7 linked regions of the Homo sapiens genome follow. The protein of the gene in region 6 purifies or fractionates together with the protein of the main gene of each other region. This does not show direct contact. Each region holds a gene or a part of one and is shown on either strand. Other genes may lie near its edges. The genes, in order: ESF1, CCDC97, MAP9, ADD2, RBMXL1, LBH and RIOK2.

The links.
Region 1: the proteins of LBH (region 6) and ESF1 purify together in Homo sapiens (affinity purification with mass spectrometry; one large-scale study listed by BioGRID and IntAct). This does not show direct contact.
Region 2: the proteins of LBH (region 6) and CCDC97 purify together in Homo sapiens (affinity purification with mass spectrometry; one large-scale study listed by BioGRID and IntAct). This does not show direct contact.
Region 3: the proteins of LBH (region 6) and MAP9 purify together in Homo sapiens (affinity purification with mass spectrometry; one large-scale study listed by BioGRID and IntAct). This does not show direct contact.
Region 4: the proteins of LBH (region 6) and ADD2 purify together in Homo sapiens (affinity purification with mass spectrometry; one large-scale study listed by BioGRID and IntAct). This does not show direct contact.
Region 5: the proteins of LBH (region 6) and RBMXL1 purify together in Homo sapiens (affinity purification with mass spectrometry; one large-scale study listed by BioGRID and IntAct). This does not show direct contact.
Region 7: the proteins of LBH (region 6) and RIOK2 purify together in Homo sapiens (affinity purification with mass spectrometry; one large-scale study listed by BioGRID and IntAct). This does not show direct contact.

The regions. Positions count from the first base shown.
Region 1 is NC_000020.11:13,767,920-13,771,419, forward strand, and holds part of ESF1 (ESF1 homolog), read right to left. Parts: coding exon 3,412-3,500; intron 2,103-3,411; coding exon 1,988-2,102; intron 1-1,987. UniProt on the Homo sapiens protein: May constitute a novel regulatory system for basal transcription. Negatively regulates ABT1.
Region 2 is NC_000019.10:41,313,172-41,316,671, forward strand, and holds part of CCDC97 (coiled-coil domain-containing protein 97), read left to right. Parts: intron 1-3,212; coding exon 3,213-3,500. UniProt on the Homo sapiens protein: May play a role pre-mRNA splicing through the association with the splicing factor SF3B complex which is involved in branch-site recognition.
Region 3 is NC_000004.12:155,342,158-155,345,965, forward strand, and holds the end of MAP9 (microtubule-associated protein 9), read right to left. Parts: 3' UTR 501-3,808; downstream 1-500. UniProt on the Homo sapiens protein: Involved in organization of the bipolar mitotic spindle. Required for bipolar spindle assembly, mitosis progression and cytokinesis. May act by stabilizing interphase microtubules.
Region 4 is NC_000002.12:70,761,701-70,765,200, forward strand, and holds part of ADD2 (beta-adducin), read right to left. Parts: intron 1-3,500. UniProt on the Homo sapiens protein: Membrane-cytoskeleton-associated protein that promotes the assembly of the spectrin-actin network. Binds to the erythrocyte membrane receptor SLC2A1/GLUT1 and may therefore provide a link between the spectrin cytoskeleton to the plasma membrane.
Region 5 is NC_000001.11:88,982,630-88,986,129, forward strand, and holds part of RBMXL1 (RNA binding motif protein, X-linked-like-1), read right to left. Parts: intron 1,438-3,500; 5' UTR 1,198-1,437; coding exon 25-1,197; 3' UTR 1-24.
Region 6 is NC_000002.12:30,230,189-30,234,333, reverse strand, and holds the start of LBH (protein LBH), read right to left. Parts: upstream 2,801-4,145; 5' UTR 2,596-2,800; coding exon 2,570-2,595; intron 1-2,569. UniProt on the Homo sapiens protein: Transcriptional activator which may act in mitogen-activated protein kinase signaling pathway.
Region 7 is NC_000005.10:97,180,448-97,184,435, forward strand, and holds the start of RIOK2 (serine/threonine-protein kinase RIO2), read right to left. Parts: upstream 2,801-3,988; 5' UTR 2,745-2,800; coding exon 2,679-2,744; intron 1-2,678. UniProt on the Homo sapiens protein: Serine/threonine-protein kinase involved in the final steps of cytoplasmic maturation of the 40S ribosomal subunit. Involved in export of the 40S pre-ribosome particles (pre-40S) from the nucleus to the cytoplasm.

The sequences.
Region 1 (3,500 bases), on a different chromosome or scaffold from region 6:
GAAATGATCCCTATTCTGACAATTAAGCCTGAGCTGATAACCACCAAAACACTGTTGGAACTAGGACAGATGTTGATGATACAGCCAGGACCCAGGAACTTTAGACTGGCTGGCTGGACAGGCTGGCCCTGATCATTATGTTGGTTCTGAAAATAACATGACTTTAATTTCATGTGACTGAATTTTTTAGACTTTGCTTACTATGTAATGGTAGAGTTTTACTACACCCAGTAACTAATCAATGCCATACAGTGCCCACCACGGCATAGCAGGTGGCAGATACAGCTACTCTCTCTGCTACCAGTCCCTCCTCAGAGAAGCACGGTGATTTATCACACAGGAAAAGCAGAGGGAAGCTAGTGTGGCTACTGCAGAGTACAGCTGTGGACAGAAAGGTTATTGGGAGAAAGAAAAAGGAGAAGGGAGGCCAAGGCGGGTGGATCACCAGAGGTTGGGAGTTCGAGATCGGCCTGACTAACATGGTGAAACCCCGTCTGTACTAAATATACAAAATTAGCTGGGCATGGTGGCGTGCCCCTGTAATCCCAGCTACTCAGGAGGCTGAGGCAGGAGAATCACTTGAACCTGGGAGGCAGAGGTTGCAGTGAGCCAGGATTGCACCACCGTACTCCAGCCTAGGCGACAGAGTGAGACTCAGTCTCCAAAAAAAGCAAAAAAAAAGAAAAGGGAGAAGGGGCCAGGCGCAGTGGCTCACACCTATAATACCAGCACTTTGGGAGGCAGAGGGGGGCGGATCATCTGAGCTCAGGAGTTCAAGACCAGCCTGGCCAACATGGTGAAACCCAGTCTCTACTAAAAATACAAAAATTAGCTGGGTGTGGTGGCACACACCTGTAATCCCAGCTACCGGGGAGGCTGTGGCAGAAGAATCACTTGAACCCAGAAGGCAGAGGTTGCAGTGAGCAGAGATCGCGCCACTGCACTCCAGCCTGGGCGACAGAGCAAGACTCTAGTCTCAAAAAAAAAAAAAAAAGAAAGAAAGGAAAAGGGAGAAGGTAGTCACCTAAGTAATAAACTATTTCAATAGACAAAAACCTTTTGGCTATTTGTTACTAAGCATTAATGTGACATCTATTATACCTTAATTATTCCATATCAATTCTTTTTACAGTTTTGAATCATCTGCAGAAAAAGGTACTCCTATTTTAAATTTTCACTAGTTTTGTTTAACTGTGCTGGGAGGTAATTCATTATCCACTTCCCCTTATTCCCTAGGATATTAATAACTGATGTATTAGAGTGTATAGGAGATACTCTTATTTTAAATTTTCCCTAGTTTCATTTAACTGTGCGGGGAGGTAATTTATTATCCACTTCCCCTTATTCCTTAGGATATTAATAACTGATTTATTAGAGTGTATAGGAAAGACAGAAGAGTGTATAGGAGAGACAGAAGAGTGTACAGGAAAGACAGAAGAGAAAAAAGAAACATCAGCAGATAACTGACACAGGCTTAAATGCGTAACAAGAATCTGAAAACAGGTTCACAGATATGGTAGAGGCAGACACGCTTGTGTCTCATTTCTCTCTGTACCCATGCATTAAAAATTTTGAATACTTTGAGGCTGGGAGCAGTGGCTCACGAAACCTGTAATCCCAGCACTTTGGGAAGCCAAGGCGGCCTCACTTGAGGTCAGGAGTTCAAGACCAGCCTGGTCAACATAGCGAAACACTGTCCCTAGTAAAAATACAAAAATTAGCCAGGTGTAGTGGTACACACCTGTAATCCCAGCTACTTGGGCAGCTGAGGCACGAGAATCGCTTCAACCTGTGAGGCAGAGGTTACAGTGAACTGAGATCATACCACTGCACTCCAGCCTGGGTGAGAGAGCGAGACTCTGTCTCAAGAAAAAATAATAACAAAAAAATTAATACTTTCCATTTTTAAAGATGCTATAAGTAATATACAAAATCTCTTCATAAAGCAATAGAGTCCAGCTACATATTTTTTAAAGTAAAGAAATACCGTTGATGTTCCCATTGCAGCAGAAGTGAAATATTTTGGTTTATATGCTGTTAAATTCACTTCTGAGGCTACATCCTTAGGCTCATCATCAAAAGTAATATCATCTGGTATAAACCTAAGAAGTAAAGAAAAAAAATTTATTTAAAATACGCTGCAGTGATAACCACAGTTTAGATTCTCATCTAATTAGTTGTAGTTTATACATACACAAACTTTCTAAAAGACACACGTTTAAGAGACAATGTTAGACATAACCTTTGTATATTTCTGAATGAATTCATCTTTGTATAAATTTCTGAAATTCATAAGCTATAACTCTGTAATTCCACTAAATTTAAAAGAATGCTGTATAGATAGAAATCGTGCATTAGGAGTCAGTTAATGAGTCAGGTGCAAGCACATGTGGGTCCCTCACGTTTCAAAAAGATCCAGACTTCTGATAGTGCAGTCATTGACTACATGATTTTGTTGTTGTTTTTACAGAGAGGGTCTTGCTCCATCACCCAGGTTGGAGGTCCATGGCATAATCATGGCTCACTGAAGTCTCAACGGCCTGGGCTCAAGCGATCCTCTACAGGTGTGCGCCAACATGCCTGGCTAATTTTTACTTTTAAAATTTTTTGTAGAGACAGGGTCTCACTATGTTGCCCAGGCTGGTCTTGAACTCCTGGGTTCAAGCGATCTTCCTGCCTAGGCCTCCCAAAGTGCTGGGATTATAGGCGTGAGCTACTATGCCCAGCTGGCTATATTGTATTTTGAAGATCAAATATAATTATTAATGGGTAAGCATTGTGAATACAAAGTATCATATACATGAGGTGTCACTGAAAACAAGGGAAAGCTTAAGGTTGAGTCTTACAATTTCCTAATTGTACATTTAGCCATTTACATTTAGAGCAGTGTTGTCCAACAGAACTTTCTGTGACAAGGGCAATGTTCTATATCTGCTCTGTCCAAAATGGAACAATTATTTGAAATATGACTACGCAACTGACTTATAAATTTTAACTAAAATAACCAAATATGACTAGTGGCTACTATACTGGATAGCATGGATCTAGAGATAACAATCTGTTTTCAAATTCCTCTGCCCCTTCCTCCATGCATTTTTAAAAGTTAACTTCATCTGGTTCCTAGCTCTAAAAGCAGTTGCAAGGAAATATTATTGTGTAAGGTACACCATCTTAAAAACAGAGCCAATATGTCTGAAAGGACAAAGATGTGGGGATGATTCATACATAATACTTTAGCACTGTCTTGTTTGTTTTCTTTCTTAGGAGTGATGTTCCATGGGATAGAGTTAACCGAAAAGCAAAAAAATCATTTTAGAATATAAAACAGAGATCACTACCAGTTCAAATATTTTACTTCTTATAATCATGTTGTACTAAAAGATTAAATTGGTAATACATACACTGGATTACCTTAGATCTATGAAAGAACAACTACTTTCAAATTCCAGGCCATCACAATCCTCATAAATTTTACTAGCTGTTTCCGGAGAATCACAGTC
Region 2 (3,500 bases), on a different chromosome or scaffold from region 6:
TGTGCAGTGCTTTTTCCTGGACCCTCTTGTCATCCCTCTCCCACTCCCCTGTGCCCTCCCCAGTCCCTACCTCTCATTTCTCTTGGCTTTGGTTCTTGTCTTGATTCTGATGACACCCACAGCTCTGTCTCCAGCCCAACATTTCTCTCCTGAGGAGTCTGGAGGCCCGTGTAGCAGCAGTCGGACCATTCCCCTGGATGCCTCCCTTACTTCCAGCACGTCAGCCCTGTGGCTCCTCCACTCAGCCTCCTGACATCTTTCTGATTCGCTCACTCATGATCCTGTTCCTTCCTCCACAGCCCCTGCCCTTGTCCAGCTCAGTCTTCAGCTGCATCAGTGATTTAAATCCTCCCTGATACACACAACACATGTATGTCACCTGTGACTTCTTTCCTCCCCAACCCAGCCACGCTGCTTAAAGTTGTCTCTATATTCTGTTTTCACGTATTTCCTGCTTGCCGCAGGCTTGCTCCCTCCACTCTTGGGAAACAAGTCTCACCAAGGTTTGCCCAGCGCTCCGCTTTCCTGTTTTCTTTCCATTTTTTTGAGACAGAGTCTTCACTCTGTCACCCAGGCTGGAGTGCAATGGCTGATCTCGGCTCACTGCAACCTCTGCCTCATGGGTTCAAGCGATTCTTGTGCCTCTGCTTCCTGAGTAGCAGGGATTACAGGTGCCCACCACCATGCCCAGCTGATTTTTGTATTTTTAATAGAGAGAGGGTTTCACCATGTTGGCCAGGCTGGTCTTGAATTTGTGGCCTCAAGTGATCTGCCCACCTCGGCCTCCCAAAGTGCTGGATTACAGGCATGAGCCATGGTGCCCAGCCAGCTTTCCTGTTTTCTTTGCCCATATTATTGTTGATCCTGACTGTCTCCCACATCAGACTGGGTGCTCCCTGAGGGCAGGAGCTGGACTGGATTCATCCTATGGATCCTCAGCATTGCCTGACTTAGGGCCTCTCAGAGATTTAGTGTTTTTTTTTCTTTTTTTTTTTTTAGAGTTTTGCTCTTGTTGCCCAGACTGGAGTGCAATGGCACGATCTTGGCTCACCGCAACCTCTGCCTCCCAGGTTCAAGCTATTCTCCTGCCTCAGCCTCCCGAGTAGCTGGGATTACAGGCATGTGCCACAATGGCTGATTTTGTATTTTTAGTAGAGACGGGGTTTCTCCCAGTTGGTCAGGCTGGTCTTGAAATCCCGACCTCAGGTGATCCACCTGCCACAGCCTCCCAAAGTGCTGGGATTACAGGCGCAAGCCACCGCGCCCGGCCTAAGATTTAGAGTTATTAAAGAGTGGTTGGGTGAACGCATGAATGCATGAGAGAGTGAATGAATGAGTAAACAAATTAGCAAATGTATTAACGATTTAAAGAATTGAGTGGATCAATAAGTCAGGCCTCAGGGCCTTTGCAGTAGTTGTTGCCTCTGCCTGGAATTCTCTTTTCCAAGAGACCTCATGGCTTAATCCCTCACCACCTGAGGTCTCTAATCAAATGTCACTTTTTTGGCAAAGCCTTCTCTGAGCCTTCCATTTAAAATTGCAGCCTTGGCCAGGCATGGTGGTTTACACTGTAATCTCAGCACTTTGGAAGCCTGAGGCAGGAGGATCACTTGAGGCCAGGAGTTCAAGACCAGCCTGGGCAACACAGCAAGACCCTGTCTCTACCAAAAAAAATTAAAATTAGGCCGGGTCCAGTGGTGCACGCCTGTAATTCCAGCACTTTGGAAGATCGAGGTGGGAGGATTGCCTGAGCTCAAGAGATTGAGACCACCCTGGGCAACCTAGTGAGACCTTGTCTTTACTGAAACTTTTTTTTTTTTTTTTTAATTTAAAGATTGGCAGGGTGCAGGCCAGGCGCAGTGGCTCACGCCTGTAATCCCAGCACTTTGGGAGGCCGAGGCGGGTGGATCACGAGGTCAGGAGTTCGAGACCAGCACAGCCAAGATGGTGAAACCCTGTCTGTACTAAAAATACAAAAATTAGCCGGGCATGGTGGCAGGTACCTGTAATCCCAGCTGCTCGGGAGGCTGAGGCAGAGAATTGCTTGAACCTGAGGCGGAGGTTGCAGTGAATCAAGATTGCTCCACTGCACTCCAGCCTGGGCGAAAGAGCGAGACTCCGTCTCAAAAAAAAAAAAAAAAAAAAAAAGATTGGCAGGGTGCAGTGGCACACACCTGTAATCCCAGCACTTTGGGAGGCCGAAGGGGAGTGGATCACCTGAGGTCAGGAGTTGGAGACCAGCCTAGCCAACATAGCGAAACCCTGTCTCTACTAAAAATACAAAAATTAACCAGGCATTTGGCTTGTACCTGTAATCCCAGCTAGTTGGGAGGCTGAGGCACCAACCACAATAACTTGAACCCAGGAGGCGGCAGTTGCAGTGGGCAGATCTCACGCCATTGCACTCCAGCCTGGGCAACAAGAGCAAAACTCCATCTCAAAAAAAAAAAAGAAAAAAAAATTTAAAGATTAACTGAGTATGGTTGTGCATGCCTGTAGTCCTGGCTGCTCAGGAGGCTGAGGTGGGAGGATTGCTTGAGCCCAGGAGTTCAGGGTTACAGTGAACCATGGTTGTGCCATTGCACTCCAGCCTGGCAATGGAGCAAGGCCTTATCTCTTAAAAAATAAAAATAAAAATAGGCCAGTCACAGTGGCTTACACCTTTAATGCCCAGCACTTTGGGAGGCCAAGGCAGGAGGATTGCTGGAGCCCTGGAGTTCGAGACCAGCCTGAGTAACATGTCAATACCCTGTCTCTACAAAAAATTTAAAAATTACACAGGCATGGTGGTATATGCCTGTGGTCCTAGCTACACGGGAGGCTGAGATGGGAGGATCGCTCAAGCCCAGGCGGTCAAGGCTGCAGTGAGCTGTGATTGCGCCCTGCACTCCAGCCTGGGTGACCGAGCAAGACCCTGTCTCGAAAATAAAATAAAATTGCAGCCTCCTCCACCTCTTCCCTCCTCCTTCCCTGTTTATTTTTCCGCATAACTCCAGGAAACACCTAACACATTATGTTTTCGGTAATTATGTTGCTAATTGTTTGTGTCCCCTACTGAAATGTCAACTTTTGCTCACTGTGGTTTCTCTAGTGCCCAGAACAGTGCCCAGAATATAGTCAGTGCCCAGTAAATGTGAGCTGAGTGAGTGACTAAGCCCCCAGTCCCTTCCCACACTCCCATCTCTGAACTAACCAATCTCTCCTTTCCTCAGGCTGCATAGAGCCTGGACCTGGGCACTGGGGTGAGCTGAGCCGGACACCAGTCCCATCTAAACCCCAGGACAAAGTGGAAGCAGCTGAGGCAACACCAGTGGCCCTGGACAGTGACACCTCCGGGGCTGAAAATGCAGCAGTGAGTGCTATGCTGCACGCTGTAGCCGCCAGCCGCCTGCCTGTTTGCAGCCAGCAGCAGGGTGAACCCGACTTGACAGAGCATGAGAAAGTGGCCATCCTGGCCCAGCTGTACCACGAGAAGCCACTGGTGTTCCTGGAGCGCTTCC
Region 3 (3,808 bases), on a different chromosome or scaffold from region 6:
AAGAACCCTAAAGCTTATGTCAAAAATAAAGTGGGTTCAAGAACAAAATCTGAAATGAAGAGTTACTAGGAGATTTACTTGAACTGTTACTTTCTTACTCAGTATTCAGTCCAGGTTTAAGTCCTTCAGCATCTGACATTCTCCTGGCAACTGTAATTGAATCAATGATGACTCATCTGAGATGAGCAAGTTGGTCCAGTCAGACCAAACAAAAGACATTCTATAATCAGGGGAGAAGTCTTCTCTATATCTCTCTTATATGAGCAAGTAAGTAAGCATTATTATTATTGCTTTGTGGTTTCGAAACTGTGGGCAAATATATGTAAAATTTACCATCTTAACCATTTTTAAGTGTAGGGTTCAGTAGTGTTACATACATTCTCACTGACGTGCAAGTGCTCTCCAGAACTCTCTTCATCCTGCAAAAACTGAAATTCTATACCCATTAAACAACTCACCTTCTATGTCTTATAGTTCTGGAAACATAAAAAGGCATCTAGTTTTATTTATAACATTTCCTTTATTTATCAACAGCAACGATATGACATTACAAAGTGACCCGTGACATCTTTTTTAATCTTGCACACGCACTGCAGCAAGGTTAATCCTGTATGTGAAAACCTCTGAGTGACTATCTCAAAGTGTATATGTCATATAACCTGCTGAGTTTTCTGATATTGTAATACTAGATACAAGATGTCTGAATAACTCCTTACATTTATAAATTCTTATTTAATTTTATAGCTTTAATGCGGTCCATCATTTCTAATAATGATATTGGCTACAAGAATAATGATCATATTATTTATCATATAATTTACCATTTGTAAAGCAACAAATTGCCCATTAACAATGAAATTGTAGTTACAGCATCTAAAATTATTAGAAAATTATATTAGCATGGAAATATGTTCATGATATATCACTGAGTGAAAAAAATCTGGCTACCAAATATGTAGTCTGACTCATTCTTATTTCAAATAATAAAAAATATGTGTATGTTTGAAAATATGCACATTAGTATTTGTATTTTATATATATTATGTACATCATTATATATATATGCATACATATTTGTATATACACACAGATAGCACAGGAGAGAGACAGAGTGGGAGAGAGAAAGAGGAGGGAGGAACTATCTCTTCCTTTTTTCTCAGCTTAATTTCAGCTACAGGAGAAAGTACACTAGAAACTAATTAACAGGAAGAGTACAAAATAATATGTTAGTTATAACTATCTTCAGGAGATGAGAACTGGGAACATGGGTGACTTTTGCTTATTTGCATTTTCTAATTATTTAATAATTATATAATTATATTATCTCTCTCTGTAATTTGTGTAGTAAAACATCAGTTTTATATCCAAATTTTTAGTCATTTATAATAAAAGGTATATTAGCATATGATTATTTTATCCTTAGCCCACAAATAAAACTCACACCACATTTCCTAACACTATGGGCATTTTGGAACACAGTCAATAGTGTCACCCAATAAAATAAATCTTGAATGGTTGATTTTAATACACTAAACATTACATGAAAATATATGCTATCAAAAAGCAGACATTAATATCTTCTTAATAATTTTTAAAACATCCTAAATTTAATACCAAGAATTTTGCCTACCCGAGTTAACATTATACAATTACATGTAATATACATATTCAAAATGGCATAATCACATGAAATTTTAAAGTAAAAATAACTCAGAGAAACTTCCAGTTTAACATTTACACAGCATTTTATTATCCTATTAGCCAGTGTAAATGCAAACTAGGAAAGTTGATATCTTTCTTTTATGTAAAAGGAAGCATATGGGTTTAAATACCTTTTTATATAGCACTATCAAAATCGGAGTCAAGATTAAATTAGGGAAATCTAAGTTTCTTTTACTAGTTTATTCTTGGGAATGATTATAACTAACACGTAATTTCCCCTACTTTGTGAAATTCCTTTTCTTTATTGTATCTTAGTCCATGACACAGGATTTAAGAAACTTCATTATTTCCCCTCACTTTAAAGTGTAGGTACCCAAATAGCTTTGATCTGGTGGACAGTTATGAAGGCAGCAGTGGAGGAGTAAGGAGATAAATAAGAGGACATGAATCAACTAAATTAATAATAACCACAGTTCAAAAGTTAGTGTGAAAGTTTTATCAATATCGAAATTGTGGAATGGTGAGCAGAATACAACTGGGACCCCTGATACTGAGATCTAACTCTAGATGTACCATAGTTAGTTGTATGAGATTGGACAAGTCAAAGTACTTGACAATCAGTTTCTTCAACTTAGAAATAAAACAGTTTAGGCCAGGTTTATTAAAGTATTAAAACCCCTTTCAGAGGCATAGTTCTATAACTCTAAGGAACATAAGACTGTGGATACCTATCTACTGTCAGGTACTGCTTTGGCAGCAGTGAAAATATCAGTTTCAATATAACTTTAAACAATAAATGGACTAACACTTTTGAAGTATGAAGCAAATACAAACCACTGGAATATTTTTATCCCATAAATCGTTACTTTCTTTCATTAAGAAAACTTTAACCTCTTGATCTAAAATGCCATATTGCATCTTTTAAGTTAAATAGCATTACCACTTTCTTCATTATTATGAAATTTAAATTCTGTATACTACTTTATTATTTAGTATTAATATTTAAATTTATCCACAAATGTGCTTTCTAAGGAAACTTGTTTTAAGTAATGTTTTAAAATATTCATAAAATTTGTTTTCTTTACTTTGAGATCTCTGCATTCTTTAAGTGATCAACGCAATTTATAAAACCGGAACTTTTATATGAAAGTCTATATACTTTTAATGTCCTTAATTTGAATTAAACATTCCCTTATAATACAAATTAATGTAAACCTAATGAGTAAATATCTATATTGACATGACATACTTCCTAAGGAAATATGGGAAAATCATACCTTTTAAATAGGTAAATGTATATTCAAGAGAATATTACCAAGCTTGATTCTCTCCCTTGGATCTTAGGAAGTAAACAACAGTACTGTATTTTCACCCACCTCCCCGAACTCAGCTTTATTTGTGCTAGAAGAGGTGATTTTATTCAACTAGTTAATTTCAGTGCAGGTTGCTGTAAACAGGAAATAATATGTTATTTATCATAGTAAGACAAAAAAAATTTGAAGTGAATGACTTGTTGGGTCTATGCAAACACCTCATCCTACCTCAGAAGCAATCCTAAGAAATTAATACTTACTTAGCTTTCTTTTTAGGAAGGCCCTAATACAAGGCATCTTTCTGTTTTTTTGTTTTGTTTTGTTTTGTTTTGTTTTTTTGAGTGTTACAGCCTGGACTGGCCAGCAAGACAGAAATTTCTTCTTCCTAAAAATGTGTAATGTCAAATAACCATTATCAACCCTATCTATGTTAATGTTCGCACACTCATGAATGGGGAAATGTAGGGCTCATGGTAATAAATCAATAATGACAACAATGAACATTTAAGTCCTTATTATGTGTCAAATAGTTTACATTAATTAACTCGGTTCTCACAACAACCTAAGAAGTAATAATGGTTAGCCACTAAATATGATAATGTAGAAGAAAATAATGGAAAGTAAATAAATAATGTGAAATCTATAAGATACACATCCATGATCTCACATCCCCAAAAGTAGCTGTACCTTTTTCAGTTTTTTTCCTTTTACTTCCCTGGAATTTGTAAATATCTTTTCAGCTCTAAACAGCTAATACAATAAACACTTTTAATCTATTTTGGCAGGCACTGTTTTTGGTACTATGGGGGACACAGGAATGAGTAAGAGAGGTC
Region 4 (3,500 bases), about 41 Mb from region 6:
TCGTTCTGTTGCTCAGGCTGGAGTGCAGTGGTGCAATCTCGGCTCACTGCAAGCTCTGCCTCCCGGGTTCATGCCATTCTCCTGCCTCAGCCTCCCGAGTAGCTGGGACTACAGGTGCCCGCCACCACGCCTGGCTAATTTTTTGTATTTTTAGTACAGACGGGGTTTCACCATATTAGCCAGGATGGCCGATCTCCTGACCTCACGATCTACCCGCCCTGGCCTCCTGAAGTGCTGGGATTACAGGCGTGAGCCACCGCGCCTGGCCAACACAACTATATTTTTTAATGTTAATGAAGACTAGTAGAAAAAAATGGGCAGAAAATTTCCCTTTTATCTAAAGAACAAGGGACTCTTACACTACATTTAAGTTAAGAAAGGGGGTGGAAAAATAGCTTGGAATTTTTTTAATGTAAAATAAAATTTTAGAAGATCTGTGACTGTATCACATATAATAAATGTAAATTGAGTCACAATTGGATTAAAAATCCAATTATGATGCTTAAAATAGACAAAAATCAAAATGACGTAAAAGAAGAAAGCTTAAGAAGAAAGAGAATGAGCATCACACCAGGGAAATGGAAACAGAAAGAAGGCAGGACCAGATTTCTTATCACACAGTAAAATTTAAGACAAAAATAAAAATACAATGAGACAAAGCAGGTCTGGAAATATGGAAGATTCACCCCACAATGGAGAGTCAAGGGTCACAACATTTGTGTCACAGAGGATAACCAGTCATCCCCATTTGCCTGGCACTGTCCCAGCTTTAGCACTGAAAATCCCTCATCCCAGAAAACCCATCAGTCCTGGGCAATCAGGGCCCTGAGTAATACAGCATCAAATATAACTATGTAAAAACATATAAAATATACACAAATACATGTTTATATATATAATTACATAATTATATATCAAATAAATATATAAATATAACTATATTATATGGATTTAAAGGGCATGCTAAAGGACATAGCAAAAGGAAAGCGGTCAAAAATTTCATTTTCTTTTTTTTTTTTTTGGAGATGGAGTTTCATTCTTGTTGCCCAGGCTGGAGTGCAATGGTGTGATCTCGGCTCACTGCAACCTCCGCCTCCCGGGTTCAAGCAATTCTCCTGCCACAGCCTCTGGAATAGCTGGGATTAGAGGCGCCCACCACCACACCCAGCTAATTTTTGTATTTTTAGTAGAGACGAGGTTTCACCATGTTGGCCAGGCTGGTCTGGAACTCCTGACCTCAGGTGATCCACCTGCCTCGGCCTCCCAAAGTGCTGGGATTACAGGCGTGAGCCACCACACCCAGCCAAAAATATCATTTGAGACTAACATCTTTTGTATTCTTTGACAGATCACTTAGGTACAAAGAAAAGTTTAAAATAAATTTGAATAACATAATCAATAAACTCATTTAAATCTATACAACTGAAGTTTAGACTCCACAGAGGATACACTTTCTCTTCATCTCTTTCAGTAACATTGGCAAAGCTTTCCTATGTAGTTTATCTTGGAAGACAGACCGGGATGAAATCTTTACTAAAAGCCTGCCATTCCATGAGTGCTCTTCGAGTTTGGAAGATTTGGTGGTGGTTGTCATTGAAGACAGGCAGTTTTTCATATTATTGCTTTAAAATTCTTTCAGGCTAAAATTGTAGCAGCCAATGTATGTGGAGTCAAATATTGTGGCTGCAATCTCTTCTAAAGATTCAAATTTCTATTCCAAGAATCTGTGTGTGTCCCTGTACATAGTTCAAAATGCTTAAACTATATAAACATCCCTTTTGGCAGAAAAAATTTCTCATGACCTCATGGTTGACCTAAGTCACTTTTATTAAAATGTAACTTAAATATGTATACTCATAAATACCAGTTCTAAACACCTATGCTTTACAGCTTTTATATTATTAAAATGCCAAAACAATGTACAAATACAACTATCCACTTTAAAATATCAAAGTAATAAAATTAATTTATTGCAATAGGTAAGTCTTTCACATGTAACAACTCATTCTTATAATATCACCATGCAATCAATGCCATATATTTATTCCTATATTATTATAGGAAATTGAGCAGGAGAGAGGTTGAATAACTTGCCTAAACTCTCACAGCTAGTAAGTAGAAAAATAATTTTTGAAGTCAGACAGTCTGGTGTCACTTAACCATCAGAACAAATTACCCATCTCATTTTCTTTTCTTTTTTTTTTTGAGTTGGAGTCTCGCTCTGTTGCCCAGGCTGGAGTGCAGTGGTGTGATCTCGGCTCACTGCAACCTCTGCCTCCAGGATTCAAGTGATTCTCCTGCCTCAGCCTCCCGAGTAGCTGAGATTACAGTTGCCCACCACCATGCTCAGCTAATTTTTGTATTTTTAGTAGAGATGGGGTTTCACTATGTTGGTCATGCTGGTCTCGAACTCCTGACCTCAGGTGATCCACCTGCCTCGGCCTCCCAAAGTGCTGGAATTACAGGCGTGAGCCACCGCGCCCGGCCCCATCTCATTTTCTTAGATGTAAGGTACCTATTGGAGAGTTACTAAATATGCATTAAATGAAGATCTAATTCAAATATTGTTAAAATCCACAACAGCAACTTTTCTGTTGTGTTTTTACTACATCTGCTGCTAATAAATTGCTGCAAACTTGATCCATACAAAGATGAACTGGCGTGAGATCTTCAATCCCTGCCAATAGAGCAGTGGTCGCCAGGAGCTGTTCTTTTGGAGTTGGCAAGTTGTGTGTGTCCTGTGTAGACTCACTCTCTCCACTATTCCAACTCCCCTTCCCTTCACCCAGGCTGTGGCTGGAGCCACCAGGCCTGCCCATGGCTCAAATGGAAAGATACAAAGGCAAACGCAGACTCCAGCATCAGTTTCAGCCTTGCCATCAAGATGATCCAGAACACATTTTTACTGCTAATTATTTATGATTATCACTGGAATAGGCCAGGCATAGTGGCTCATGCCTGTAGTCACAGCTACTCAGGAGGGAGAGGTGGGAGGATCGCTTGAGCCCAGGAGGTCCCGGCTACAGGGAACTATGATCATGCCACTGCATTCCAGCCTGGGTAACAGAGCAAGATCCCTACTCAAACAGTCTGGGTGACAGAGCAAGATTCCGCAAAAAAGATTATCACTGGAATAAAACCACTAATGTCAGAGAATACACAGATCTTTCAAAATACGTATATCTTCAGAACCCCAGGGGGCTGAGAGACCTGTGGCATGATATCATTAGCTCATGCTGAGGGCCATTGTGAAAAACAACCCTATGAAACTTGTCCTTGTGTCTGATGAGGAGGTGATCGAAGGCATCATTTCAAACACTATGTCACATTAGGAAAAAGTTCCTTTCTGGTCTCGGAATCAAGAACTGTTGGTTGGGCAAAGTGGCTCACACTTGTAATCCCAGCACTCTGGTAGGCAGAGGCAGGTGGATCGCTTGAGGCCAAGGATTTGAGACCAGCCTGGCCAACATGGCGAAACCCCGTCTCTACTAAAAATGCAA
Region 5 (3,500 bases), on a different chromosome or scaffold from region 6:
TTTGGTCCAAAGTTTTGTTTGTTTCTAGTATCTGCTTCTGCCTCCCCCTCTATCAGATCGGCTTCCTCCAGGGCCAGCACCTCTTGGTGCTCCGCGGCTTGAACTGCTGTAGGAATCACGTGAAGAAGGGTACCCCCTTTCTACAGAAGGGGGAAGCCCTCTTTCTTGTCTGCCAACCCTGTCACAACTTGAGTAGAGATCACTTCGGCTGCTTGAGTAACTGTCTCGACTTCCACCATATCCATCACGTGAGCTGCTATAATCATCATAGCGACTGCTTCCACCATAAGATGGCGGGGGCCCTCGTGTAAGTGGAGCACTACGTGAGTTACCATAACTCTCATATGAATCTCTGTAGGAACCTCCACTTGGATGATCTGAATAGTCACGATCACGACCATATCCATCTCTATCGCCATAGCCTCTTGATGGATAGTCATCACGTGAACTGGAATGACCATAATCACGGTAAGTATAATCTCGTGGTGGTGGTGCATAATCTCTTGTATCACGAGAACTTGGGTAATCTCTGCTTGAATAGCTGTCTTTAGTAGAATACCCATCATCTCTTGGGGACAAATAAACATCTCTACGAGAGGGGAGCGGTTCCCTTCGAGGTGGACCTCCATAACTATCTCTTCCACGTGATAGAGGAGCTCTTCCTCCCATTCCACTGCTGCTGCGAACTAGTCCTGAAGGTGCAGATCTCTTAGGAGAAGGACCCCCACTTCTTGGTGGTGGTCCTCTTTTTACTGGGAGTGGTCCCCTGGAAGAACTCATGTTAAAATTCATGGAATATCCACCATCATCCATGTGTCCTCCTCGTGAAGGAGGTCCCCTGGTTCCTCCACTTCCTCCTCTTCCAGCTCCAAAACCTCTTGGAGGACCTCTACTTCTTGGAGGTGGGGGCGGTCCATGTCTACCTCTTTCAAATGATGGTTTGGTGGCTTGTTCCACCTTGATGGCTTTTCCATCTAATGACTTTCCATTCATGTCTCTGGCTGCATCCTTAGCGTCTGCTGGGCTTTCAAAGGTGACAAAAGCAAATCCTCTTGATTTGTTGGTTTCACGGTCTTTTATCAAGAGTACTTCCACTATTCGTCCATATTTGCCAAATACTGTTTCAAGAGCTTTCTCATTTGTTTCCGTATTAAGCCCACCAATGAAGAGCTTTCCTGGGCGATCTGCTTCAACCATTTTTTTTTTTGCCGGTGAGTCGGAGGGGTGACAGTGGGTTCAAGCTCCAACAAGCTCGCCGACAGGGGCTTCCTAGCAGCTCAGCACCAGTGGCGGCTGTCAGTTAGGAGGACTGAACCGCGAAGCCGCTAGCACTACTGCGCAATCTGGATGCTTTTTAAGGTATGGCTATCCATTCAAAAAACCAGGAAAATTACTTTCTTTTGCCACTAGATGGCAGAGGAAAACAACAGAATGTTCCTGTAATGGTGGAAGAAATGAAAGTAAAACTCAGAAGTGGAAATGTAAAGCAGGGAAAGATGCTTAAAGATACATAAAAAATGCAATTATATTAAGCTCAAAAGTGTGTATAATTAACAGGAGCCCTTTTTTTGTTGCTTTTTTTTTTTTTTTTTTTTTTTTTTGTAGACAGGAGTCTCACAGTGTTGCCCAGGCTGGAGTGCAGCGGCGCAATCTTGGCTCACTGCAACCTCTGCCTCCCAGGCTCAAGCCATTCTTGTGCCTCAGCCACCTGAGTAGCTTGGATTACCGGCATGCGCCACCACACCTGGCTAATTTTTGTATTTTAGTAGAGCAGGGTTTCACCATGTTGGCCATGCTGGTATGGAACTCCTAGCCCAAGTGATCCGCCTGCCTCGGCCTCCCAGTGTTGGGATTATAAGGGTGAGCTACCACGGCTGGCCTTAACTGGAACTTTGAAACAACATATAGTTTGTTACTTTATTTTATAAAGAATTATTTGTGCCTGATACGCTGTAGCTATTTAACATCTGTTGACTGAACAGATCTGCTGAGTGAAAGGGAAGCAATTTGGACTCCCTCTGAGAGATAATGTATTTGGGGAAAAAATTGTACTTCAATAGAAAACTATGCACTGGCCACAGCACAGCTTTAGGGCTGATATTTGCAGGGCTAGAATTTGCCTTTGAGTTATTCTGGGCTTTTGTAAATTGAAGCTAAGTGACAGGCATGCAAATTCTGGTTCTAGCATTTTGATTATCTTCCCTCCACCCTGTAGAAAAAACAGTTTTGCCTTCATTTGCAATCCAATTCCTTTACTACATATGAATTTGTGCTTTTTGACTTTCCATATGTACTGGTTATAACTTCTGTCTGGTTACTTCATATCACATGAGTGAAATAAAAATCTTTAGCACATGTTCATTTTTATATTTGTATGAGTCATGATTTAACCTTTTTCTGAAAATTATATTTTAACAATTACTTCAGAGAAACAAGCTTATTGGAAACAAGGCTTTCTCTAAATCTGAAAGCTGATAACAGCTAAATACATGGCTGGAATGCCAGAAATGGAGTCAGGCCAAGTGGAGAACAAAAAGCCTGGTTTATTCTCTCAAAAAAAATTGGGTTCAAGCCAAGACCTTGGAAGAGTGAGTAAGTGAAGGGAGTGCGTGAGTATTGTCCTCACCCATATCAATAGGCCTGGGGCCCTTCTGCCTGCCTACACTGTGTAATCTCAGCTCCCCCAATCACAGCTATAAATCAGAGTTGGACAGTCAGGCTGAACCAATCAAGACAACTAGAAGTTTGGGTTTGAGGCTGAGAAACAGGCTGTTTCTTCTGGGCACATGAAACAGAAGATTGGTAAGTTTGAATCTGGGCAAGTCTGTGTTCAATCCCTCACACACATGCCATGTTCTGTGCCAAAAACACACCTACGTTCCAAGTATATTGTTCAAGGTTGTTTAATGCAAAGAGCTTTCAAGCCAGATAGATCTTAGTTCAAAATTAAACATCAAAACTCCTAGTGTGTGAAGTAGGCAGGTTACCTGACATCTCTGAAATTCAGTTTCCTTATTTGCTAAGCAGGAAAATGAATACCTGCCCCATGTAAGTGCTATGGCAATTAAATGAGGCAAAGCCATAAGCAGAAAAATATAGTTCATGGCATACAATATATATACTCCAAAACTAGTGCCCACTCAGAAAGTAGGAAAGATTCTCTTAGATACAAGTAAGGATGAGTAACTTTGCACTAAAGGAGGCAAAGAGATATTGGGTATGGACTAAATGTACAAAAGGTGATACTTTCACATCAAAAGAGAGGGTTGGGCTGGACGCAGTGACTCATGCCTGTAATCTCAGCACTTTGGGAGGCTGAGGAGGGTGGATCACTTGAGCCCAGTAGTTTGAGACCAGCCTGGCCAACATGGCAAAACCCCGTCTCTACAAAAAATACAAATATTGGCCGGGAGTGGTGGCGGGCACCTATAGTCCCAGCTACTCAGGAGGCTGAGGCAGGAGAATTGCTTGAACCCGAGAGGCGGAGGCTGCAGTGAGCC
Region 6 (4,145 bases):
TGCTGTGGGATCAGGGGACTGTCTGGAGACAGGAAGAGAGGTGTTCAAAACAGAACTTGCAGCAAAACAAGCTCACACCCTGAGGAAGCGCCTTGCAAGCCCACAGCCCCAGGGCTCAGCCGCAACAGACAAAGCCCATTGTCTGCAGACCTCTCTGGCAAACCTCTTCCCTCCTCTCCTGTACTCTAGTCCCCACTGGCACAGAGGGACCCTGAATGTTTCTTTAAATGACAGAACCAGAGAAACCAAAACAGTAGGTAGCTGAGTCCATCTGTCTATATTAAAACCAATTCAACCACATCTCCCTTCACTTCTCCAACTAAGAATAAAAATAATCCTCACATGAACTTTCCAAAGGGGAACTCTATATATTATTAATACACAATAACAATAACAGGTCAACTGGAGGGAAACAAAGTCCAATCATACAGCTTTCCTAAATTTGTCTCTCTGGTGCTCCTTTTGGCAAAATGTTCCACTTAAAGCCCCAAGGGGTCAGCTTTTCTGCAAGTTTCACATCTGCCATCCATCCCCTTTCTCTAGCCCCAGACACAGCAGCTGCATGCTCACAGCTTGAAAAACATCCCCTGGATTAAAAGCCTTAAGGATACCCGACTCTGACTGCAAAGGAAATTTCCAGAGGGGCCAAGCTGGCCCACCAATGGCTGACATGTGAAAGTGCCTTGTACTCTCTAAGCAGGATACGAATATTCCCTTATCCTTGCACAAACTCTGGGCACATACAGGATCCCGTGCACATAATGCTGAACATAAGCACCAAATACAGGTACCTGCTACACAGCACCCAATGCTTTCCACCATCGTGCCTGTGCACATGGTTTAAAACAAAAATATGGGGGAGTCTTTTGAGGGACAGTATCTAAGGAAACAGGGGTACCAGATGCCTCTTCAATTGTATGGTTACTACATAGATAAGAAATGACACTGGATTTAGAAACAGAAGCAATAGGTTCTAGGCTCTGCCCCTCAAGAACTGTGTGATCTTGAACAGGTCCTGTAACTTCTCTGAGCCACAAGTGTCCTGTTTGTCTGTTACTCTGATGCTAATAGTGCATACCTCACAGTTAGGTTAAGGGCTAATGTCTGCATAAAAGCATTGCAAGCTGCAAAGTGCTAATCGATGAAATAAACTTAAACCTTAATTTCTCATAATATTCTTAATGGGTCCAAACACCCACCTTGGCAAATTTTGAGCAGCCAAAGGCACAAAGCCTCCAACAGCCTTCAAAGCTTCACCTATAATAAGGCACCTAGCTGCTCACACACCACGGGAGAGGCAAGGGAGGGGCACCCACAAGAAGGGTACACAAGCCTCGGGGTGGGGGAACTTGAACTGTTGAGAGAGGGAAGTTCAGTCCCCTCTCTAAACACTGCCAGGCTGGGACGGATGGGGGCAGGGAGACTAACAGAAGATGCGGGGCTTTGCGGCAAGTTTAGGTTCGGGAGCTGGGCCCTGCAAAGGCAGTTTCCTCCCGGGTCTTGGAAAGGCTGCTGGCGACCTCCAAAGAAAGGAGCCAGAAGAGCGCACGCAGGGTGAAGAGTCTGACGTAGGGGCGGCTCTTCCTCGCTCGGGGCTGTGGCGCCGGCCCGAAAAGTTGAAGCGAGAAGCATGAACTTTCCGCTTCTTGGGCCAGGCCGGACCCCGCCGCGGCTTGCGCCGGTTTTCCCTTCGCTCAGCGCCTGCCGGAGACTCGGGGCCGAGCTCCCCACGTCCGCACCTGAGAGCGCGCTCCGGGGCTGCCGGCGCTCGCCCCCGGCCGCTTCTCCTCTAACCCAGAGCAGGAAGGAAGAAACTGCCAGCAAGGAAGTCCCAGCAGTCAGGGGCCTGCCTCTCTCTGCATCCCTCCCGGCTCCGATCCCCAGTCCGGGGCAAACCTCCGACGCCCCGCGCCCGGCCCGGGCTCCTTCCCCTTCAGCACGGCGAAGGCGGCTCCTCCCAGTCCCGGCCCCCACCAATGTGCGTCGGTTTTTAGGGGCGGTGGAGAGGGCAGGGGTTGAGAGGCTGCAGCGCGTGCCCTGCTGCTTGTGGCTTTAGTGGGGTTACGTGTGGGGAGAGCGTTTCCCGCCCCCCACCCCCCCGGAGCTCTGCAAACCCTGCGGCCGCACCAGCTCAGCCCCGCTGCTGCCGGCCTCGACGTTGAGACTTGCATGCAAACAAAAAGAAAAAGAGGAGGGGCCCGGGAAGAGCAGGAGCCCCCCTGCGCCAAGTGGGGCGCGCGCCTCCTGCAGCTCTCCGCATAGGGTGGTTTCATTGGGGGGGATTCACACGTGACCCCTGGCTCCCCCGCCAACCAATACAAACCCTCCGGCCGTCACTTAGGTGAGGGCTCCGAGTTCACGTCCTTTGTCTGGATGTTCTCAGCACCCCCTCCCCCCACCCCCACCTTTGCAACCTTGACGTTGACTCCTGCACGGGCTCGGGCGGCGGGTTAGCGCTGAGCGCCCGCGCCGCCGGCTGCCCTCGCACCCGGAGCCGGCACGAAGCAGGCGCCCGGGCCCGCAGCCACCGCCGCGAGACAGACGCCCGCCGCAGGCGCAGGGTACTCACCAGTGAATGGGGAAATATATAGACATGAAGTCCTAGGGCAGGCTGACACACGCCCCTGTGATTTAAAAACGGTCCCTGCGTCCCGAGTGAGGATGACACGGGCGCAGACGGGCACGGCAGGCGGCCGAGTGCGGACACCGGGCGCTCGCCGTCCGCCTTCCCAGGACAGCCCCACGGCTAGCGACGTCGGCAAGGTGGACACAACTCCCCGCTCTCCACTGAGCACTCAGCCCCACAAAGAGCCCGGGAAGCCGTATTTATAGGGGCGGGGGCGGGGCTTGGCCCCGAGAGGCCCCGCCCTCCCTCGCCCACTCCTGGAATAACGTCACCAAAATCATGAATGGCTTCAGCGCTCGCAGCTCCGGCGGGCGGCGGCTCGGGGGCGCGCTCGGCTCTGCTCCCGGGGCCGTGGTTCGCTGCGGCTGCGAGCCCGGCCCCCTCCCGCCGCTCTCCCACGCGCACACGCGCTCACTCGCACCGGCCCGGACTCCGCGTCCGCGCCGCTTCCCGCTCACAGCCCCCTCCACGCACACCCCGAACTCCAGCGCGGCGGAGGTGGGCGCAAGGAGGGCGCGGGGGCCGCTCGGGACATGACAGCTCGGCGGCTGCTCTGCGCCGGGGTAGGGCACCCGCCACTCCTCCACCCCAGCCGCCCGGCGCCAGCGCCCTCCTTCCCATCCACTGGCTGTCCCCAGCCCACCTCGGACCCCTCTGAAGCGTTTGTTCCCCATACTAGGCCTCTCTCTGGAATCCTCGCCCGCAGCCTTGCGATCAGCGAGGGGAAACAAGAGCATGGTTAAAGAAGAAGCGGTGGGAAGGTGGCAGAGACGCGGAGCCGGGGGACCGAGTGCCCACGGGGCGCGTTGGCTTGCGAAGGGCTGGTCTGCAGCCCTGAGTTCCGTGGAAGGTTTTATTTGTGGGAGCAAGGATGTGGTGTCGTCCTGGGTAGGATTTTTCCATTGGAGACACACATACGCCCGGTCTGCAGCGGGGGCAGAAGGTGTGGGCGGGCGGTGTGCACGCCGCCCCCCATCCTTGACTCCCACGTCTTCTCCGAGGAGTCGCTCATGACAGCAGAAACAAAGAGCTTTAGCCGAACGCCTCCCACACTGCCCAGGAATTGCAGCTCTGGGCGTCTGTCCAGGCAGTCAAAGCTGCGCAGCCCCCCAGAGCCACATGATGGGAGTCTCACTCGGGACCCAGCGCTGCCGCTCTGTGGCCTCCGCTTCAATCACGCCTGTAAAATGGCTTTAGAACCCTCACCTACCTGTGTATAGGGGCTGAGGAAAGGGGGCGCGGGGAGATCAAAAACTAAGCAAAATTAAATTGGCTTTGAAGTGAATCAGCTTTTTAAAAGAAAGGCAGTGAGTGTATTGAATCCGTATATATGTACTTGAAAGTGGAAACGCATAGCTTATCTCAGGCAAAAGGATGACAGAATTAATGGCGAAGGTTCGACAGGGGTAGGACCCTGAAGGAAGCCGTGAGAGAAGACCCTCATAATTTTCATCAGTCCCCGCAAAACCAGCCCAAACAAAAATTATAAGAATTGATGAGAATAATTTATTTAAAAATA
Region 7 (3,988 bases), on a different chromosome or scaffold from region 6:
AGTACAGTAGCAGCTCAGATGGGATAGCATATAGAATTCATGCAAACGCGGCTGGAAGATACTTCTAGGATAGAGAAGGCATTAAAATGTAGACCAAATACTTTTATATTTTATCCTGATGAGAGCAGGAAGCTCTTGAAGATGTTTAGGCGTGGGAGACACACGAACAGGGTTATTTTAAGGACATTAATGTACCAGGAATATGCAAATTGGCTTAGAGATGGCAAAATCTGAGGGGGTACTCCGGAGAACTAAGACAGAAGTCCAGCTCAGAGGAAAGAGCCACCAGAACAGGGTAAGTGGTAGTGGTACTGGAAGGAAGGAATAAAAATCTTTAGGAAGTATTATGGGAGAGCTTGGCAATTAGATGTGGAAGGGTAAAGGGAACGGAAAGCCACAATTGGAAGTGATGAGGAAAAGCAAGTTTTAAGATTTTATTATTTTTTTTTTTTATAGAGCTTGGGAAAAGAGAAAGGGGGTAGAAAAAAATTGAATTTGGTTTGAGCACTGAGAGTCAAATAAAAATGTTTAAAGGAAAACTGGAGGCCAGGTGCAGTGGCTCACACCTGTAATCCCAGCACTTTGGGAGGCCAAGGTGGGTGGATCACGAGGTCAAGAGATCGAGACCATTCTGGCCAACATGGTGAAACCCCATCTCTACTAAAAATACAAAAATTAGCTGGGCGTGGTGGTGTGCGCCTATAGTCCCAGCTACTTGGGAGGCTGAGGCAGGAGAATCGCTTGAACCCAGAAGGTGAAGGTTGCAGTGAGCTGAGATTGTGCCACTGCACTCCAGCCTGGCAACAGAATAAGACTCCGTCTCAAAAAAAAAAAAAAAAGAAAGAGAGAAAATTAAATAGGAAAGGGGCCTATATTTAGGAATGAAGTTATAATTAGAAGGAAAAATTGTCAATTATTTTATAGAAGTGAGAGTTGAAGATGTGAAGTGGATGCTATCACTGAGCAGGAGATAATGGAAGAAAAGGAATGTTTGGGAGCAGAATTCTGGGGCAAGTTCATATTGAAAGCTAAGGGCAGCTAGTCAAACAATGATTATTGATATAGGAGGAGCCAAAGAAGTAAAAGGGAAGAGAGGCCCAAGAAAGGGTACCAACACTGGTGAGATTCAACTGAGACCGGAATGTCATATTTAATGACTAAGTCATTTCTTGGTGAACTTTACAAATAATTTAAATATTGCAGCGCCAATGTTTTGGAAGATAAATCTGGCATCATTTTGATGTCTCACCAAAACCTTAACTTTTAAATTTAACTTATTTTCCATGCTTTGTCTCTGCCTCCCCCGTCCTCTAACACTCTTACTTTTGACCCCTACTTCTGTCAGAGACACTAAGGAATGAGTGTGCTGAGAAAGCAGGAAAGGAAGGTATCTTTCCGAAGTGATAGTAGGTTTTCATAGAGAAAGTCCAGCTGATTAGAAGAATCTACATGAGAGGCAAAGTAAACATTGTCTTCCAAATTTCACACTGATTTTGCATTTGATAGTTTAATACTTAAGCGCTATTTAAGATTAATTTTAAAAATCCAAAACTTGAAGCCTTAACATAATGCAAGAACCAGTGTGACTCACATCGCATATCCTATTACATAATTACACAATATAGGTAGTCCTTATCATGGGGTTCACTCCTTACCAAAAGATAACGGCTCCTAAATAAATGTACAAATGTCTTGATCTATATATTAATTTCTGTGCCATAAGACTGAGGCCATAAAATCAGATTTTGTTACTCCCCTGATTAAAAACATTTAGTGGTTACCCCCACATTCTTTACCAAACCTCCAAGGCTCTGTAGTACATAATTTCTCACCTTTTCCGCTACATCTCCAACCATTAGTGTGCATCTCACTTTGCTCCAGCCACATTACATTGGCCTTTCCTCTCTTCAAAGACTTTTCTGTCTCAAGGCCTTTGCACTTACTACTGCTGTTTCCTCTGCCTCCAACTCTTTCCAAGGACTTCACTGGGCTGTCTCTTTCTCACACAGCTCCTATTATTCCCCCATTCATTCTTTCATTTAGTGAATATTTATTGATTGTCTACCAAAGGCCAATAACTTGTGCCCCTCCTCTCCACCAGATACATATACTTTCTATGCCATTATCCTTTATCATTTTCATAGCATTTATCCATTATCCTATTTTTCGTTTACTTGATGATCTGTGTCTCTCTCTCCACTTGTCTGTTTGAACAAGTGAACCTCCTAATGTTGCTACTAAAAAACCGACAAATATGTGTTGACTGAATGAATCAGAAAGACTGCTATGCGACTGAGTCTGTTAGTAGGGAAGTCAATATTATCAAATCTCGGGGGGGGGGGGGGGCTTAAACCTTTCACAGCTGGTCGGAAGCTCAGGATCAGAGAAGTTTCCAGGCCACAGAGATGCAAGCGTTTCTCTTCAGCGCAAAGCGAATAGCAGCAGAAAAGAAAACAATTATTAGAAGACGGGACCTTTGCTCTATCTGGGGGAAGGTAAGCTCCCAAACAAAACCTTTTTAAAAATCCGACTTTCTGAATGCTCTCTTCTCCATTCCCAGCTTCTGCCACGTCCCGGGTCCCAGAGTGTGCCTGCTCAGATCCCAGAAAACTTGCAGGAACAGGAAGAGGTCACACAGTGTTAAGGGGAAGGGAGAACAGGAACGGCGGGTTTCTTACCGCGGTCAAGACCCTGAAGTCATCTCGGCTCATGTAACGCAACTTGGCCACATTCACTTTCCCCATGGCGGCCCCAGTCCGAACCCAGATGCCTCTCCGACGACAGCCGCAAAGCGTAAGGCAGGTCGTTATTCCAGCCTCTAAGCGCTTTACAGCGCCAGATGGCTCGCGCACGCGCTGCGTCTTAGTATAGGTCCTTGTTAATAGTTAGAAGTGCTGTTCTCATTGATATAGGAAAATAAAACTACTTGTATGTCTTATGAAACACATAGTATGTAACAAGTGAACGTTTTATTTTTGTGTAATTTTTGCGTTGTGACTGAGTTGGCGGAGTGTAGATATTCTCTACAATGTGCCTTTTTTTTTCCATATCTGTCAGGACTTGCTGCCTCAATGACACGTTCCGCCTCAGAGAGCAAAGTGGTTACTTAATGGGAGGAGCAAATTTTTCCCGCAAACAACTTCTACTCTAGGCAAAGTGACTTCCAACAAGACAGGGGTAAAAGAACCTGAGCTAGAGTCCAGACAACCAAATCTGTTAAAGGTAAAGTGGACTGTAATCACACAAGCACGCCCTCTACTCCTAATTGCGCCTGCTCCGGCAGCTCCGGAGGGCGTGGTTAATGGAACTCATGCGCTTGCTCAGTACTTCTCTTAGGTTGGTCTAGGAGGCTTCGAAGTGCGCCTGCGCTGGTTGGGGTGGGAGTTTAAGGTGACACGTGGAGAGCGCGGCGGACGTCCTTACCTCCAGAGGAAGTGGGGATTTTGATAGTTCGGGCTGACCTACGCGGGTAGGACTTCGAGGGCCCAGGAGCGATTTAAGGATTTTAGAATAGTTACCCATACTGGCTCTGCAACTCCTCGATATTCAAGCCTTTGTCTGCTTTTTACTTGAATGCAGCATGTCTTTGATTAACCATCTTCAACCAATGAACATCTCCATTTAAACGGAATTTTTCTTTCTGTACTTACATAAGAAGGCATAGAAATGAATTTTTTTTTTATTTTTGAGACAGAGCCCGGCTCTGTCACCCAGACTGAAGTACAGGGGCGCGATCTTGGCTCACTGCAACCTCTGCCCTCTAGGTTCAAGGGATTCTTCTCCCTCAGCCTCCTAAGTAGCTGGGATTATAGGCTCACACCACCACGCCCTGCTAATATTTTTATTTTTAGTAGAGATGGGGTTTCGCCCTGTTGACCAGACTGGTTTCAAACTCCTGGCCTCAGGTGATCCGCCCCCCTCAGTCTCCCAAAGTGCTGGGATTACAGGCATAAGCCACCGCGCCTGGGCGAAAAGTTTTTAAAAAAAC